Linked DNA regions of Homo sapiens: region 2 is linked to region 1. The links come from fine-mapping of genetic effects on gene expression. A gene starts in region 1. The other region holds a variant in brackets. All regions are shown on one strand. Distances are between the middles of the regions.

Region 1 (8,599 bases):
CAGATCTCTGCTGCTTGCACCCATTATTCCAATACTTCTTCATAGCCTCGTTCTGTTCCCTAAAGAACAAAAGCCTCACCATGGAGCTGACAAACAGCTTAGCTCTGTTATTTCCAGTGCTTGTTTCCTTAAAACTTTGTATTGCTCTACACTGCATGGGTAAATGACAAAAGGCTTTTGTAGACTGGTGTCCAAAAAGCTCATGAGACCAAATTTATTTCACTGGTAACCCAGGCAGTGCTGGTTTCTTACTATAAAAGTACATATAAAGTTTTTTAAGACAGCTTTCTCACCAATACTATGTCAACACTGTATCAAATGGACGTTAACTTTCTCACCAATACTATGTCAATACTGTATCAATTGACATTTAGTGAAATGACTCATTTAGTGTTCTTCTCCCCAACTCTTCAGTTTTAAAAAACTCCATCCTCACCAAGCCACTCCAATTTGATACATTGTCAATATCTCTAAATCCTTCAAACCAGCAGGTTGGGTACCCACTTGCAAAAAATTAAATACATAAGCGTTTTTGCTGGGAAAATGAAAATGCTAACATCTAACCATCTGTCCAGCCGTGAATAGATTTTGACCATAAGTTCTCTAGCTATATGCAATAGCTAAACTTTAAAGATTAGTAAAGTGATGTAAATTTTTCTAAGTTCAGTCAGCCGTTTTGTCCAAGCAAGTTTCCTCAGCAAAAACAGAAAACTGATCCAATGCTCTCTCCATATAAATTTCAAATAAATCATCTCAGATTACACGAAGGAATTTCATCTTATCACCTGACTCCTCCATGTCAGCATGACATTTTGAAACTTGCTGTATAGCTAACCTTACCATACCATCTCTATAATGGGGTAGACAAATGTGGACTGAAGAGGGCTGTTAAAAAATAAAGTTGTACCAAGCACTGGTCAGGCTATAGTTTTGATAGCATTTTTTATGTGGCAAACCACGATCTGGTACATCAGTAGAGCAACTGCTTTCCATTATTCCTTCGTGACTCAATGAGTCAGGCCTTTTTCCATCATTAGCATTTACAACATAATAACTCCAGAGGTCGATCTTCAGAAAACACTTAAAAACAAAGACAATAGGCATTTTTAATTTTAAAGAATTTTAATACAAACTTAATATAAACTATTTCAGTCCCTCTTAACATGTAAGACACTGACTCAAAATACTTTTATACCGTTTTTTTCAAGTATTGCACAATATAGGTACAAAATTAATATTTACGATTACATTTTTCTTCCATAATATATAGCAAAAATCTTTAAACTTTTAACAGAAAATACATTTTTTTGAAAAAGCAAGTATTCGTACATTTTAATTCCACCACTAAAGGAATATCCTGTACACAATTTTTAGAATAGTTGATGTCTTTAAGATGGATATTTTACAATTTCAGTAAAAAAAATACAACATGAAGCTGCTGCTGTCACAGATCACTGTAGTAAAAAGATATAAATGCAATACCATGTCGTAGAAACAATATATATATATCCTCTGATATTTTACAAACTTTGTACTAAATTAAATTATACAATTAGAAAAGACCAATAAACCCACTTATTAGTGCCAATTTTTATAAAAAAAAATCAGCCATGTCCTTGCTATATCTTAAATACTGTAAGAGGCCATATCTGAGAGTATACTTTAAAATATACAGTCAGTATAAAATAACTTTGTGCTTGGTTGGCAAATGAAAAATGATGCATGTTTTATTATTATTTTTTTAACCAAGCTTGAATGTATCCTTACTATAAGCTTAAAAAAAAAAATTCTCAAGGAGGTGAAAAAAAAAATCCCCCTTGGGCCCGTGCATTTTAACTTGTACGATACATTTTCTTTTTTTTAGTTAGCCATAACAGGCTGGAATTGCTGGTTAGAATACTGCATGTTATTTAAGCTAAAATTCAAGCCATCTACAAAAGATTTCTCATTGAGGCCTCCATAGGCTGCAAACACATCAAAGGCATTACTGTACTGGAGAGGACTGAGGTTAAGGGGGCTGTCACCTGGGAACATTCCATTGGTACTACTACCTTGACCCTGCATATTAGGAAAAATAAATTCCTTGGCATTAGGAGAAAGAGCAGAGGTTTTCTGCTGTTGTTGCTGCTGTGGTGGTGGTGGTGGCGGTGGCGGCTGGGCTGGCTGCTGCTGTTGCTGTGGCTGCTGCTGGCTACCCAAGCCAAGCCCATACAGAGAGTGCATTGAGGAAGAGATGGCTTTCTGCTTCAAGAGGTCATTCACATTCAAGCCGAGGTTGATGGGAGAAGTACGTGCAACCTTGTTGCTACGGCCACTATTCTTCATTTTGGTAGAGCCGAACTTGGTGGCAGCAAAAGTGGCAGTGGTAAAGGTTAAAGGCTGAGTGGACCGGGGCATGAAGGTAGGGCTTACAGCAGCAGAGTGACCAAAAGGAGGCGATGGAGAGCTGGACACTGATGAGGCTGGGTCACTTATGGGCATAAAAACCTGGGCCTCTGGGTTAAAGCTGTTTTTGATCTCCTTATCCAACTCACATCCATTTTCATTATTATCATCCACGTAAAGCACCTTCACTGGTCCCTTTTCACCAATTTGGTAAGAAACCTCAAATGGGTCGATCCAAACACTAAGATCCTGTGGCAGATTGCCACGAACATCATCAATGTCCAAACCACTCTCTTTGGATGCTTGTTCAATCACTGGGTCCACTTTCTCCCCTATGTGTATACATCTAAACCCCGATCCTTTGTATGGCTTTTCAGGATACCAGTGCCCTTCATATTTCTTCTTAAGAAGTCTTTCAAGTTCTTCACCAAAAATGTTGACACGTCTCCTGGGAAGCTTATTGTACAAATACGAAATAATAAAATTTAGTGCTACTTGGATTTCAAGCTGCATAGCTGCTACGCCACAAAATTAGGTTTCAACTCCCCCACCAAAAAAAAAAAAAAAAAAAAAAGATGTTCAGTTTGTGGCAGAGAAACAAATTTTCATTCAAAGTGCTGGTATTAGTAGATTATCCTTCACCTTGAGTGATCTTGTTCCTTAAAACAAAAGCAAACATATCCAAATAAGATAAATGTAATATAAGTCCCATGACCTTCCCCCCTCCAAAGTAATTTCACCTTTCAAAATGTCTAAGATCCTGTGTTAGTCTGCTAAGGATAAAAAGAAAAAGAAAATGTCTACTAGGACAGAAAGCCTGAAAACTGTTACTAGCACAAAATAAACATAAAATAGAAAATCGTTTATTAAAGTTTAAAATGACACAGGAAAATGTAGATTTACAAATGAAATAATGCTTTTAAAAACCTGTTTCTGAATAGAGTTCTAAGAAGAAAAATCTCTAGAACATGCATTCTTCTCTCCTCAGTTCTCACAAGAATATTTATTGTACTCAGCATCCTCCCCCCACCCCCATATATATAGATGCCACTTTTAGGTAGTAATTTTTATTGTTATTCACCAACTTAGAAGTGAATCCATGTTTTAGTTTACTTTGGATATATACTGTTTAAATCTGCTCTGTCACTGACATTTAAAAATTTGGTTACGTTAGGAAGATCATTTTAATTTCCATAGTACATGATGCTAAAATTAAAGACACTGAGTACTAAATGAACTTCATCCTAGTAAATAATTATGAACCAAATTATTCTATATAGTTTCGGCCTTAAGTATACTAAGAGCATACAATATAATAAAATCCAGCTTCTCTGGGCCTTTTGTTTTCAATGTGTATTTTTCTAAATCTGAAAATACCTATTCGGCAGCAAGTATAACAAAAGCAAAGACACAAATTAAAACTATTGATTATTCTGTTTAAGGCCAGGGTTTCTGAGTTTTAGTCTGATTTTAAAAAACCTCCGTCTGTCCCTCTCTCCCTCCCTCCCTCTCACGGTAACAGCCGGAGAGGCAAGTATGGTAAGGTCGACCTTTAAACGTTTGCTGGATCAGCACTGGGTGGGGATAAGAAAAGATCAAGGGCAAACAGAAGATATTTGCGAAAGGGATCTATTTGCACACTGAAGTTGATTTAAAAGTACGTTTAAAAATCAAGTTGGTCTTAATTCGTCTGTTCTATTTTCCATATTCGTGGTGACAAAGGGAAAAAGAATCTCTGGCTGCCCCCAAACTACAAACACTTTCCAAGTCAAAAGCCTGAGTGCCGGCAGAGGCAGCTGATTAAGCCCAATTGCTTGAAGGTGCAGCCGAGCGAAATTCAGGCTCGGTGGAAGGTAGTTACAAAGCAACGCCTTAAGACAGGCAGGAGTGTGAAGAATTACATAAACAGCCAGTTAGATCTCATTAGATTTCTGCTCACAGCCCTCGGAGCCCAAGCGCTACAGCAGCAGCAACAGCAAGAGGAGGTGGAGGTGGAGGAGGAAGAGAGTACGAGCCTCCTCGGAGAAGGAGGAGGAAGGCCCGGGAAATGGAAGAGCAACCTCTCCCGGCTGGGCACCCAGCACCGAGCAGGTCGGGGCGCCGGGTCAGCCGCTCCCCTCCCCCGCCGTAACCCGACCCGCTGCTCCCCGCCCCGTGGCCCCCGCCCCGGGCTCCTGGGAGCCGGCCAGAGCCTGGGGGAGCACCGGTTCCTCGGCACCATTTTCAGCCTCGCGGCCACCGGCCCCTCGAACCCCAGCGTTCCACCGCGAGCTCGTCGCTCCTCCGGGCACCCCAACCCCCCAATTCCCGTCAGCTCGCCCCGGGCCGCCCGTCCCCGGCCAACTGCCCAGGACGAGCCCGACGCGCCGGCGGCCCCTCGGAGCCGCTCCCCTCGGGTCCTGGCGCTGCCCCCTCGGCGCCCAGGGCCGCGACCCCGCCGTCCCCGAGCTCCCGAGGGCCCAGGGCTCGACGCCGCTGCAGCCCCTCCTCCGCCGCCTGGGCCCGGGGCTCCCGTCTCCTCGCCGACCCCGCCCGGCGCCCCGAGATACTTACGGGCTGCTTCGGGGCGGCTTGGACCACAGACCCGCGGCTGGGCGGGGAGCAGCGCGGCAGGGCGGGGGCGCGGGAGGGTCGGGAGCGGCGAGCTCGCCGAGTGCAAGACGTTGCCGCTGCGGGGCTGAGGACAGAGGACAGAGGCCTCGGGCAGGCCTTGGGAGATCGCCGTTAGTGGCTCGGGGTGGCGGGCACGGGGGTCAGACGAGCGCGCTCACTTCTCCACACAGCCCGGTGCCCGGCCCAGCGTCCCCGTAGTGCGCCCGCTACACGCCGGGCCAGAGCTTCGCTCCTTCTGCCGCGGCGCGCGCCCCGCCTCTCGTTTTATGGCCTCCTCCCCGCCCCCATCCCCTCCGTCGGGGTGCGCGCGCCCGCTCCGCGTCACACAGCTCCGGCGGCGCAGCCATTCCCCGCGCTCCCCGCCCGGCACCCCGGTCCCCCGCCGGCCGGCTCCGCCCCTGCCCTGCCCCCCGACGCCATTGGCCAAGTCCCGCCTGCCCCTGTCCGGACGCGCGGCGGACGCAGGGGTGGGGAAGCCGCACCCTCCGGGCTCCAGGAGGGCCAATGAACCGACGATCGGAGCACTGGGGACGGAATGAAGAGAACGTCTGGAAAGGGACTGTGGGGGCAGACGTGCCAATGAGAGAGAAAGGGGTGGGGTAGGGCGGCTGACGCCCGGTTTAGGCGGAGAGCGCCGGGCAGAGGGGGAGGGGGACGAAGCTGGTGGCGAAGCGGCTCAGGAGAACCGGGGCTGGAGGAGCGGCAAGAGTACCCAGAAAGTGCCCTCTCCGCGGGGGTCTGCGGCCAAGGAGGATCCTGCTCGTGGAATAGCTACCAAATCGGCCTCCAGCCCACCCCAGGGGCGGGGTAGAGAAAGGGCAAACTGTGACCGGGACTTGTGCACCCGATTAATTGAATATTAATCACCCCAAGGCCTAGGCCAACCGCCACCCAGAGAGTGGCAGCTGCAGAACCCAAAGACGTGGAGCCGGGCTGGGGGTGGGGAAGGGAGGCCGCCACAGCTCCCGCCCCGCCGGCAGTTTAACTGCTTCCGCAGCCTCAGGCCTCCCGGTGCGACCCCGGCTGCGACTCGGATCCGTTTATTCCAAATGTCCCAGCCCACGCCGTGCCCAGAGTGTGGCGACACGAGGCCAAACTGCGTATGTATCTGTGTCCATGTCTACACACACACGCATGCGTGCATTTCTAGGGCTTGCTGGATCGCAGGTGCACAGAATAAACGCGGTGCCTGCTTGTAAAGCGCGTTTAAGATCATTCTTGGCTGAAATATGTGCGGGTACCTAGGGAGTGGGGTAAGAGAGGGACTCGTGGTGGGGGGCGGGTAAGTGCCTTTTTCACAACCTGCCCCAGAGAAATACACGAAATTACATCGGGAGTGGAATCGAGCGTCCCTCTCAGCTAAAAATATTACTCACAGGTAGCAACGACGCCTGATTGGCTGCGCTGGTCCCTTCGCAACGAGGCGATTGGCTGCCTGGTATCCAGGAGACCGACGTCAAACTCGGACTGGGAAAAGGGGAAAGTCTGGGGGGAGCGAAGGAGGGGACGGGGAGAAAGAAGCAATGAATGAAACGCCCATCGCCTGGCCTTCCCCTTTCCCCTTTCCCCTCTCCTCTCCATTCTTGGAGCACTTCCTGGAAAAACACCAGTTGGGGCGCCGCCTTCCCCTCCAAACGTTGGGGCCTGCACTCTCAACCTGCTATAAGGAAGTTAAACCGCAGCTCACCGAGGAGTAGGGTGTCTACGGGGCGGGCCCGTGTAGACCAGCTGTGCTCCTCGGGCACAAACCCGCCGTACATGCCAGGCCTAGAAGCTTTTGGCTTTGTGGACGCAAAATCTGGTTGGAGCCGCCTTCTCCACCCTGACTCTCCCGCCTCTCCTTTTTAGAAGGAACCGCACTGAGAAAGGGTATTTCTGAAGGCTCAATGCGTAGGAGAAGGGGTGGGAAGATGGGTTTGTGGAATGGGCTGAGGGTGGGGAGTGGTCAGGTGACTGATTTCATGTTTATTGTACAGATTCCTAAAACATAGTTTTACTAAGTGACTCCTTAAATTCTGATTAATGTGATTTTTTTTTTTTTTTGAGTGTTTGGGTTTTTTAGTTGCAAACAGGAGTGGAATTGAAATGTGAAAGTATGGCAAAACTGTGAAAGCATTTAAATTAAAATGTCCCTTCCTCTGCATTGAAATGTCATCAAAGCGTCAAATATAAATGATTTGTTCAGTTTTCTTTTTTTATTTGTTTGTTTTTGGTTTTCTGTAATGACAAGTCCATCTGTAATAAAAGTGAGTTATTTTTAGTTTTCTAATTAAGCACAGAAATTTCAAGAAACTAGACAGGATATCCTTGGAATGCCTTACCAAAAGAAACACTTCATTTTTCACGTGTTCTAGAAGCACAACTTCTTTTACCATTAGGCAAATAATGGTACTGTACCAAACATCTAGAACTGCGGGACCATGTGTCTTGATTAGTAATTTTATATTGGGGGGGCATATTAGGCATGGCTGAGACTAAAATGTCTAAAGATAGATGAATTGTAATTTTGTCAAACTTATCTGTACTTTTCAATAATTCTCTAAAGAGAAGGGACAAGTTCTCTTTTCTGAATGTCTTCAATCTGTAATTCCAGATTTGAAATATGAGAGCAGTCATCTGATAGGTACTGATTAAATATCAGTAGCATTAAAAGCATTTTTAAGTCAGAAATGTAGATGTCAAAAATTTATGAGTTATTGCTGCTTGGCCTAGGAGTGTAAGAAGATGTCTGACCAAATATAAACACACACACACACACCACACAAACAACACACACGGAGGCCCCATGGCATACTGGAAAAAGCAATGAAGGGTGGGTACTGGGAGGTCTGAGTTTCACACCAGTTTCAATAAACTTTTAGTTTTCTCACCTATAAAAAGGGTTGAATTAGATCATATCTAATGTCTCCTTCAATTAAAAAAAAATTCCACACTTGGCTGGGAGCAGTGGCTTACGCCTGTAATCCCAGCACTTTGGGAGGCTGAGGCAGGCAGATTACCTGAGCTCAGGAATTTGAGACCAGCCTGGCCAACACGGTGAAACCCCGTCTCTACTGAAAATACAAAAATTAGCCGGGTGTAGTGGCACACGCCTGTAATCCCAGCTACTTGGGAGGCTGAGGCAGGAGAATTGCTTGAGCCTGGGAGATGGAGGTTGCAGTGCGCCGCGATCGTGCCACTGCACTCCTGCTGGCCGACAGAGCGAGACTCTCTCTCAAAAAAATAAATAAATAAAATATTCCGCCCTTAAAACTCAATGTTCCTAACATATATACTGCAGCTGTTCTTCAAATACAGATTGCAAGTCAGGGCGCGGTGGCTCTCGCCTGTAATCCCAGTACTTTGGGAGGCCAAGGTGGGTGGATCATCTGAGGTCGGGAGCTCGAGATCAGCTTGACCAACATGGAGAAACCCTGTCTCTACTAAAAATACAAAATTAGCCTGGCATGGTGGCGCATGCCTGTAATCCCAGCTACTCGGGAGGCTGAGGCAGGAGAATCACTTGAACCCGGGAGGCGGAGGTTGCGGTGAGCTGGGATCGCGCCATTGCACTCCAGCCTAGGCAACAGGAGCAAAACTTCGTTTCAAAAAAGAAAAAAAA
Region 2 (8,599 bases), 45 kb after region 1:
CTGCCTACCTCGGCCTCCCAAAGTGCTGGGATTACAGGCATGAGCCACCATGCCCGGCCAGGAGCTGATTTTGTATGAAGCAAAACTAATCAGAGCTTCTGAGCAGCATGTCCTGGTTTTGTTTCATACAAAACAGAATCCTGAATGAGTAATTACTGAATAAATGTACATTTATCATGTCCCTCATAATTCCAGCAATGAAACTTGACATTTTAGTTAAGCCAGTGTACCCTTCTCACAGATAAATATTCTATTTTCTGTTAGGATTTTATAAAGATAAAAAACAGCAACAGGTCTCTTTCTCCCTGCTCTTTTCTGATCTGGGGTGGGGTGTGGGGAGCCAGGAACAGGTGATCTTCCAGACCCCTTGTATTGCTGGGTTAGGAGGCCCACGTGTGTTCCATTGGCGAATACACTAGTCAATCATTAGGCCCATCATCAGTCCCACCTACCAATGCCTGGCCCCCATCAAAGACCAGTACAGAATAGAGAAGGGCCAGCAGGACCGGGGCAGAAAACCCTGCTCCCATCACAAACCCTTCTGCCTCTGCCCGCCCAGCCCACAATGAACACCAGAATTCAGAGCTACTGCCAGTGGAAATGGGAAGGGACCACCTCTGTGAGCACTTTAGGATTTCTCCAAGGGATGAGAAAGACTGGTTAAGAGTTCAGGGGGGCACAGTGGCTCACACCTGCAATCCCAGCACTTTGGGAGGCCGAGGCAGGAGGATCACCTGAGGCCAGGAGTTTGAGACCAGCCTGGTCAACATGGTGAAACCCCGTCTCTACTAAAAATACAAAAATTAGCCAGGCATGGTGGCAGGCACCTGTAATCCCAGCTACTGGGGAGGCTGAGGCAGGAGAATAGCTGGAACCTGGGAGGCAGAGGCTGCAGTGAGCCAAGATTGCGCCACTGCACTCCAGCCTGGGCAACAGAGTGAGACTCTGTCTCAAAAAACAAAAAAAAAAAAAAAAAGGCTGGGCACAGTGGCTCACGCCTGTTATCCCTGCGCTTTGGGAGGCTGAGGCGGGTGGACCATGAGGTCAAGAGATCAAGACCATCCTGGCCAACGTGGTGAAACCCTGTCTCTACTAAAAAAAAAAAAAAAAAAAAAAACTCTACTAAAAAACAAAAACAAAATACAAAAAAATTAGCTGGGCATGGTGGCATGCGCCTGTAGTCCCAGTTAGTCAGGAGGCTGAGGCAGGAGAATCACTTGAACCCGGGAGGCGGAGGTTGCAGTGAGCCGAGATTGCACCACTGCACTCTAACCTGGGGCGAGACTCTGTCTCAAAAAAGAAAAAAAAATCCATTCCCTACTGGACAGTCTACCATGATGTCTTAGAGGTGCCTCAAATTCAATTTGTTTAAACCAACCCATTGTTCTCCCTCTGGGGATGGGAGGGATGCCCCTCTGGCTGAAACCCCAACCTATACATCTGACCGTCAATCACCCAGGCTCTGCCTTCTGACCCTTAACTCCCCTCAGCCCCTGTCAGGACTTCTAGGCCAGAGCTCCAGTTCCTAATGGTGTTTTCTCCTTCACCTCCCTCAGCCCAGTCCTCACCAGGGCCCTCATGGCTCATGGTGGGGGCCTCCCATCTTCCCACCCATCACCACACTGGAGCCAGGGGGCTTTTTCACATCACCTGTGATTGATCATCCGTAGCCTTGATCAAAACCTTCAGTGACTTCATGCAAGGACACAACATGTATGCGAGACAATGGGGAGAAAAACAGGGAGTAACTAAAGTTCTTGGGGGAAAGGTGGTGAACCACTAATCACTCCAGACCTTTAATTTCACAAATGAGAGATATGAGACTCAGAGACACAGAGTACCCAGCTCAAGGTCACCCAGCAAGGCAGAGGGAGATGGTGTATTTGGGGGACAGTGACGCTCTGTCCCACCTGGCATGCTGTCCACCCCCCATGTCCTCACTGGGCACTGTACTCCAGCCACATGGAGCTTCTGTGTGCCCTAAACTTGAACAGCTCTTTCACTCTACTTCCTTCCTCATGTAGGCATGTCCTTCCTCTCCTCCCCACATCCACAGTCCTAGCCACCCGCCCAGGCCCAGCTCAAGTGCTGCCTCCTCCAGGAAGGCTTCCCTGAATGCCTATGCTGACCTCCTCTGCATGCCTTCCCTCCCATCACTCAGCATTCTCAGGTTTGGTTAGAATCATTCTTGGGCATGTCCTCCAGACAGGGTGGGACTTGTCTTACTCACCTTCATATCTTCAAGAGCACCCTGCACAGTGCCTGGCCTGTCACAGGTGCTCGACAGGTATTTCTGGAAGGAATTATCATTACATTTATATTGTCATTATGCATGTCTGGCATTGACAGTTGAGTCAGCCACTGTGCTCAGTGTACGAGTCAGAAGACATGCGTCTTCAAAACAGTCCCAACGATTAGCCCCATTTCACAGATGAGGAAACTCAGGCTCAAAGGAAATTGATTGCTTGCCCTGGGTCCCACTGCTGGAAGGAGGCAGAGTTGAAACTTGACCCCAAGTGCGGCTGATTCTAAAGCCTGTGACTCTTTGTTTTTGTTTTTGTTTTAAAGACGGAGTCTTGCTGTGTTGCCCAGGCTGGAGTGCAGTGGCATGATCTCTGTTCACTTCAACCTCCGCCTCCTGAGTTCAAGCGATTCTCCTGCCTCAGCTTCCCAAGCAGCTGGACTACAGGTATGTGCCACCATGCCCGGCTAATTTTTATAATTTTAGTAGAGACGGAGCTTCACCATGTTGGCCAGGCTGGTCTCAAACTCCTGACCTCAGGTGATCTGCCTGCCTCTGCCTCCCAAAGTACTGGGATTACATGTGTGAGCCATAGCATCTGGCCCAGCCAAGCCTATAACTCTTAATCTCTGTGTTCTCTCTGCAGCAGGGATGACGGCGCTCCTGGAGGCTGGCTGGGAAGCTGGTCAGGGTCCCAGGACTCTGACACCCCCAATGGCCCTTGTAGCCTTGGGGAGTCCTGTGATCCAAGGCTGGAGGACTGAGTCCCCTCCAGGTCTCATAGCAGACGAATAGCAGCTTCACCCAGGCCTGTTTTGTCGTGGCCCCATTCAGAGGCCGCCCTCCTCTGTGGTTTAGAGCATGCCCTGGAATCCCTAGCACAACCAGGTGACGAGAGTTCCCCGCTGGCCCCCTGCCGC[G/A]GGAACACAAAGTACCTTTGCACATAACCTTTCTTTGTCCTCTGCTGGTGACGGCAAATAGGGCAGGCCCAGGGCAACGTGGTAAGGTGGCAGAAGTTTGTTTTGGACAGTGTTTGCAGCTTCTCTGTTCCCTTTCCACCAGGGGTTACCTCCTGCTGGCTGACCCCTTCCTGTGCTGCGGGCTGGAATATAGGGTTTAACCCTGTTATAACCCAGAGGAACACAAAAGGAGGAACATCAGGCTTTATGGAGAGACTGGAAATGAAGTGGAGGTTTTCCTTGCTCATGAAACCTGGCTCACCCTACAGGTAGTCCCAAAGAGAGCTTGTGATTTTCTTTCCCCTTTGGTCCCCCGACCCCTTCAGAGCTCTCTGGGAAGCTATGCTCTCTCACTGCTTTCCCTCCCCTGATCAGAGTCCCTGTGCCAAGGCTCCTGGATACTGGGGCTGGAAAACCTCCTGTCCCTTCCACCACTCCTGTGCCCTCCAGGGAAGGGGTCTGGGGTCTCGGGGCTCACCCCCACCTGTGTGCCAGTCCCTGTGCTAGGCCTGCACAGACATCAGCTCGCTGATCACTACGAGAACCTCAACTCTTCTCCCCATTTCATGAGGACACCGAGGCTCAGAGGTGTTCGTGATACTCAAGATCACACTGCCAGAGCGTGAGTTACTGGGATTTGAACTTTGGTCCGTGTGGCTGCAAAGCCAGTGGCTGCTATGATTCTCTTTCCACTTGCTGCAGCCCACGTCCCTCTGGGCAAGTCTGACACCCTAGCTGCCCTCAACTGCCTGGCCCCGTGGCGTCCCAGAGGGCGAGGGGAGCACAGGGACTGGGCACAGAGGCCAGCTGGGGTCAAGGCAAGGGGGCTGCCCAGCACAGTGGTTCTGCTCCAGAGGTGCAGTCAGACTGCCTGGGTTGGCTCATGCCTGGGTCTGTCATTGTGGGCAGCGTGACCAGCCTAAACCTCAGTTTTCTCTTTTGTCACCTATGTGCTAAAAATACTTATTTCTGGAGATTCTTGTGAGGATTAAATGAGATCTTCCAAGCCAAGTGCTTTGCATAGTGACGCAGGGTAGGTGCTCAAGAAATTTTGTTGTCTGCCTGTGGTCTGGGTGGGGGCAGGGTGGGGCTGCGATGGTGAAGAAATGACACAGAAACCCACAGGAAACTTCATCATCTAGATGGTACATGGATGGCACATTCAAGGGAAGTAACGAAACGAGAAGAAAAAACTTTTACATTTTGGCTGAGCAAAGGCAACAATATAATTACCATCATTTATAAAAACTGCCTCCCATTAATGTCTAATTCCCACAAAGCGCAACAATGATTATCTCATTAACTATGTGTCAGATTAACTTTGTTGCAGGTTTTATTTGATTAAAACAGTGAACTCACAACACGTATTATGCTCATTCTTCATAGTTTGTGGTTTCTGGAGCATAGTCCTCTGTTGGCAACTTTTTCTAAATTAGAGGGCACGTTTCTGGGTAAGTTGTTTTTTAGAAATTTAGTTATCTGGAGTCCCAAAGCACCCAGGGTGGAGGGAAGGGCTCAGAGCTTCCTATTAGCTTCCACCTTTGGATTTGCTAAGGCCAGTGATGAAAGATGAATTATGTATCCATATTTTCAAGACTTTGGGGGCTGGGCTTGGGCTTGGGCCGGGCGCTGTGGCTCATGCCTGTAATCCCTGTACTTTGGGAGGCCGAGACAGGTGCATCACATGAGGCCAGGAGTTCGAGACCAGCCTGGCCAAAATGGTGAAACCCTGTCTCTACTAAAAATACAAAAATTAGCCAGTCATGGTGGCAGCACCTGTAATCCCAGCTACTCAGGAGGCTGAGCCAGGAGAATCACTTGAACCCAGAAGGTGGAGGTTGCAGTGAGCCAAGATCATGCCACTGCACTCCAGCTTAGCCAACAGAGCAAAACTCTGTCTCAAAAAAAAAAAGTCTTATTCGAATATTTTACTGTGTGCATTTGTATTACTTTTGTGACATATATAATTTTTTAATGTCTGGAAGCGGAAGATACTGTTTTTATTCCCTCCCCCTCCCCCTGGCCCCGATATATTGAAAACTCTAAAGTTGTTATATCCTGGATTCTGTTTCCTCCATGAGGAGAAAAGTTTGTTATCTGTCATATGCACTTAAGCACCTGATGTTTTTCTCATTTTCTGGTAGGTGGTGCAGACCCCTGTCCCCTCCTCCTCACCCCTACCTTAACAGGGAGAAGCTGCCTGTGGACAGCTCCCAGCTGCACAGGGAAATCGCTGAAGATTTCTAATAGGGAAGTGTCACACTTTGCCAACTCTGGAGAAGACAGAATAATTGGCTGGAATCGCAGACCGGGTCAGTGGTACAAGAGAAGGCAGAAGCTCGGTGGGGAGGGGTTGGTTCCCCAGCATTTGGCTGGGCATCTCCCACAATGCCAGACCAGAATCATTGTATCCTGAGGCTCGGGCCATTCCGTGGCCCCCGGTCATCCCCAGGAGCTGGAGTATGTGTCTGCTGCACTGTGGGAGAGCCCCTGCACCCACACTGAACCCAAGGGTGACCCTTTCCCTGAGATCAAGTGATGTAGAGGCTCAGGAAGAGCCCAGCTGCAGTGCTCAACTCCACCAGAAGGGAAGGGGAGGGAAGGGGGCAACAGAAACCCCTGTTGTCATGCAGAAAAGGAAAGCTTGTCTGGGAAAGGGTGTCCGCACTGTCCTTCCCCAGGGCTGTGCAGACCGATGGTCTGCAGGTACAAGTACCAAGCAGAGAGGGCCTGCTCTGATTCACACTTAGCTCTCTGGGAGAGAGACAAGGGCAAGCTTGGATCCTGGAGGACCAGAGAGAAAAGCCCCTGACCTAGGAGGTAGGAAGGGGAGGGCATTTATTTGTTCTATCTGCTCCTGATCAAAATGTAGTCTCCACATGTGGCCTGTGGAAACAGACCCCTCACCTCCAGCTCAAGGCTCCTGTGTACTGTCCTCCTCTAGTCCCTGTCTCTGTGGTCTAGCTACTTTGCCTCAGCCACTGGGCATCAGATCTGGGGCAGCATGGTCTAATAGAAATATAACCCGAGCCACACATAGAATATAATATTTTCTTTTTTCTTTTTTTTTGAGATGGAGTCTCGCTCTGTCACCCAGGCTGGAGTGCAGTGGCGTGATCTCGGCTTACTGCTTGCTGCAACCTCTACCTCCTGGGTTCAAGCAATTCTCATGCCTCAGCCTCCCAAGTAGCTGGGATTACAGGCGTGCACCACCATGCCTGGCTAATTTTTGTATTTTTAGTAGAGACGGAGTTTCACCATGTTGGCCAGGCTGGTCTCAAACTCCTGACCTCAGGTGATCCACCTGCCTTGGCCTCCCAAAGTGCTGGGATTATAGGCATGAGCCACTGCACCCAGCCAGAATATAGTATTTTCTAATAGCCACATTTAAAACAAGGAAACAGGTAAAATTAATTTTTTGAATATATTTTGCTTAACCCAATATGTCTAGAATATTATAATTTCAACACATAAACCATTTAAAAAGTAAAGAGATCTTTTATATTCTTTTTTCATACTAAATTTTCAAGATCTGGTTGGTATGTAGTTTACTCTTGTGGCACATCTCAGTGTGGACTAACTGTTCCAGTGCCCATGGGCACATGGCCATGGCTACCATATTGGAGAGTGCAGGTCTGGCACTTTCCTTGTGCCCTCCACTCCCCACAGGGGAGGTCAGAGGCCTCCTCAGAGGCCCCTGTCCAGACCCCTTTGCCTTTCCCTGACCCAGGAGCAAATCATCCTTTGGGTCGGGGTGCCCATTTATGTTTCCTTATTGGACAGTGGGGAAGGCAAGACTCCTGGACTGGGCATCAGAAGGCTCTGCCACTCAGCCTGCTGTGTGACCTGGAGCAAGTTACCTCCCCTCTCTGGGCACTGGCCTCATTCTCTGTCAGATGAATTTTCATTAGATTTGTGACTTTCAAACTGTGGAACCTGTTTTTCCAAGGCAATCTCATGCCGAACCCCCCATGTATAAATCACAGGAGAGTGGAGCTGCTCAAGGCACTGTGAGCTGCTGCCTCCAGCTCCCAGCCTGGAGATCACTCAGTGGCCAGGCCCTGGAGCACAGAGGGTGAAAACCTGGCACTATCAGTCTGCAACTCACATTTTCAGACCTAATTTTCTTTTTTTTTTTTCTTTCTTTCTTTCTTTCTTTTCTTTTCCTTTTTTTTTTTTTTTTTTTTTTTTTTGAGACAGACTCTTGCTGTGTCGCTCAGGCTGGAATGCAGTCTCAGCTCACTGCAACCTCTGCCCCTCTCCCAGTTCAAGCGATTCTCCTGCCTCAGCCTCCTGAATAGCTGGGACTACAGGCGCCTGCCATCATGCTGGCTAATTTTTGTTTTAGTAGAGACAGGGTTTTGCCATGTTGGCCAGGCTGGTCTCAAACTCCTGACCTCAGGTGATCCACCCGCCTCTGCCTCCCAAAGTGCTGGGATTACAGGCATGAGCCACCGTCCCGGCCTCACACCTAATTTTCTAAACCTGCAAATGACACCGTAGGTTGCTTATGGGCCCGTGTACATAGTAAAAGTATGAAAACATGCATAGGAAATGTGCTGGTTTCAAGTTAGTGGTCTCCTCTGATGAGGGAGGAAGAAGGATGGGCTAGGGATGTCACTTCCGTTCTATTGCCAAAATTTAATTTTTGATTGAAAGAGACCTAAAGAGAATAGAGTGAAATATTTACATGTGTCCAAATTTAGTGGTGGGTTTGTGGCTGAGATATTACTCTGTACTTTTCTGTATATTTGAAATATTTTACAACTTTAATTTGAAACTTTAAGAAGGACAAATAAATATAATCTGGTCTCACCTTAGGCATAGAATTTATTTATTTATTTATTTATTTATTTATTTTAGACGGAGTCTCGCTCTGTCTCCCAGGCTGGAGTGCACTGGCGCAATCTTGGCTCACTGCAACCTCCACCTCCCAGCTTCGAGTGATTCTTCTGCCTCGGCCACCCAAGTAGCTGGGACTACAGGCACGTGCCACCAAGCCCGGCTGATTTTTATATTTTTAGTAGAGATGAGGTTTCACCATGTTGGTCAGGCTGGTCTCGAACTCCTGACCTTGTGATCAGCCCACCTCGGCCTCCCAAAGTGCTGGGATTAGAGGCGTGAGCCACCGCATCCAGCCAGGCATAGAATATTTTTAAACGGTCAAGTAAAATGTAACTTTCCCTCCCCACAACACACTTGGTAATCCCTAAGACCCCCCACCGCCCCGACCATCTCCCTGCTCTGGTAGTTCAGGAATGTAGGCGCTCAATTGACCAAGGGTCAGGAGTTCTGAGGAAGCAGACAGCAGCTGAGCATTTATTCAATAAGTATCAACTCTACCTTTGGGGTATCAGGTATGTGGGGGTCCCAGAGAATTGAGACCCAACCCTGGTTC

What was found.
Region 2: its variant is fine-mapped to the expression of TOB1-AS1 in thyroid (GTEx, PIP 0.98). The same link has a PIP of 0.9 or more in pancreas.

The regions. Positions count from the first base shown.
Region 1 is chr17:50,861,120-50,869,718 of GRCh38, forward strand. It overlaps TOB1-AS1 (TOB1 antisense RNA 1), which reads left to right and starts at 5,560. Exons shown (of 2, transcript NR_038458.1): 1 at 5,560-6,098; 2 at 6,377-7,252. TOB1 (transducer of ERBB2, 1) reads right to left here and starts at 5,235. Exons shown (of 2, transcript NM_005749.4): 1 at 4,939-5,235; 2 at 1,104-3,044. The coding sequence starts at 2,898. The coding sequence ends at 1,861. RefSeq lists an enhancer at 3,851-3,900 and silencers at 4,441-5,050, 5,061-5,570.
Region 2 is chr17:50,906,268-50,914,866 of GRCh38, forward strand. No RefSeq gene overlaps it. Among named protein-coding and RNA genes, the nearest start is that of TOB1-AS1, 44 kb to the left of the region's middle. RefSeq lists enhancers at 2,564-3,474, 3,475-4,384 and a silencer at 3,001-3,295. The variant G/A (reference allele first, on the strand shown) is at 3,163.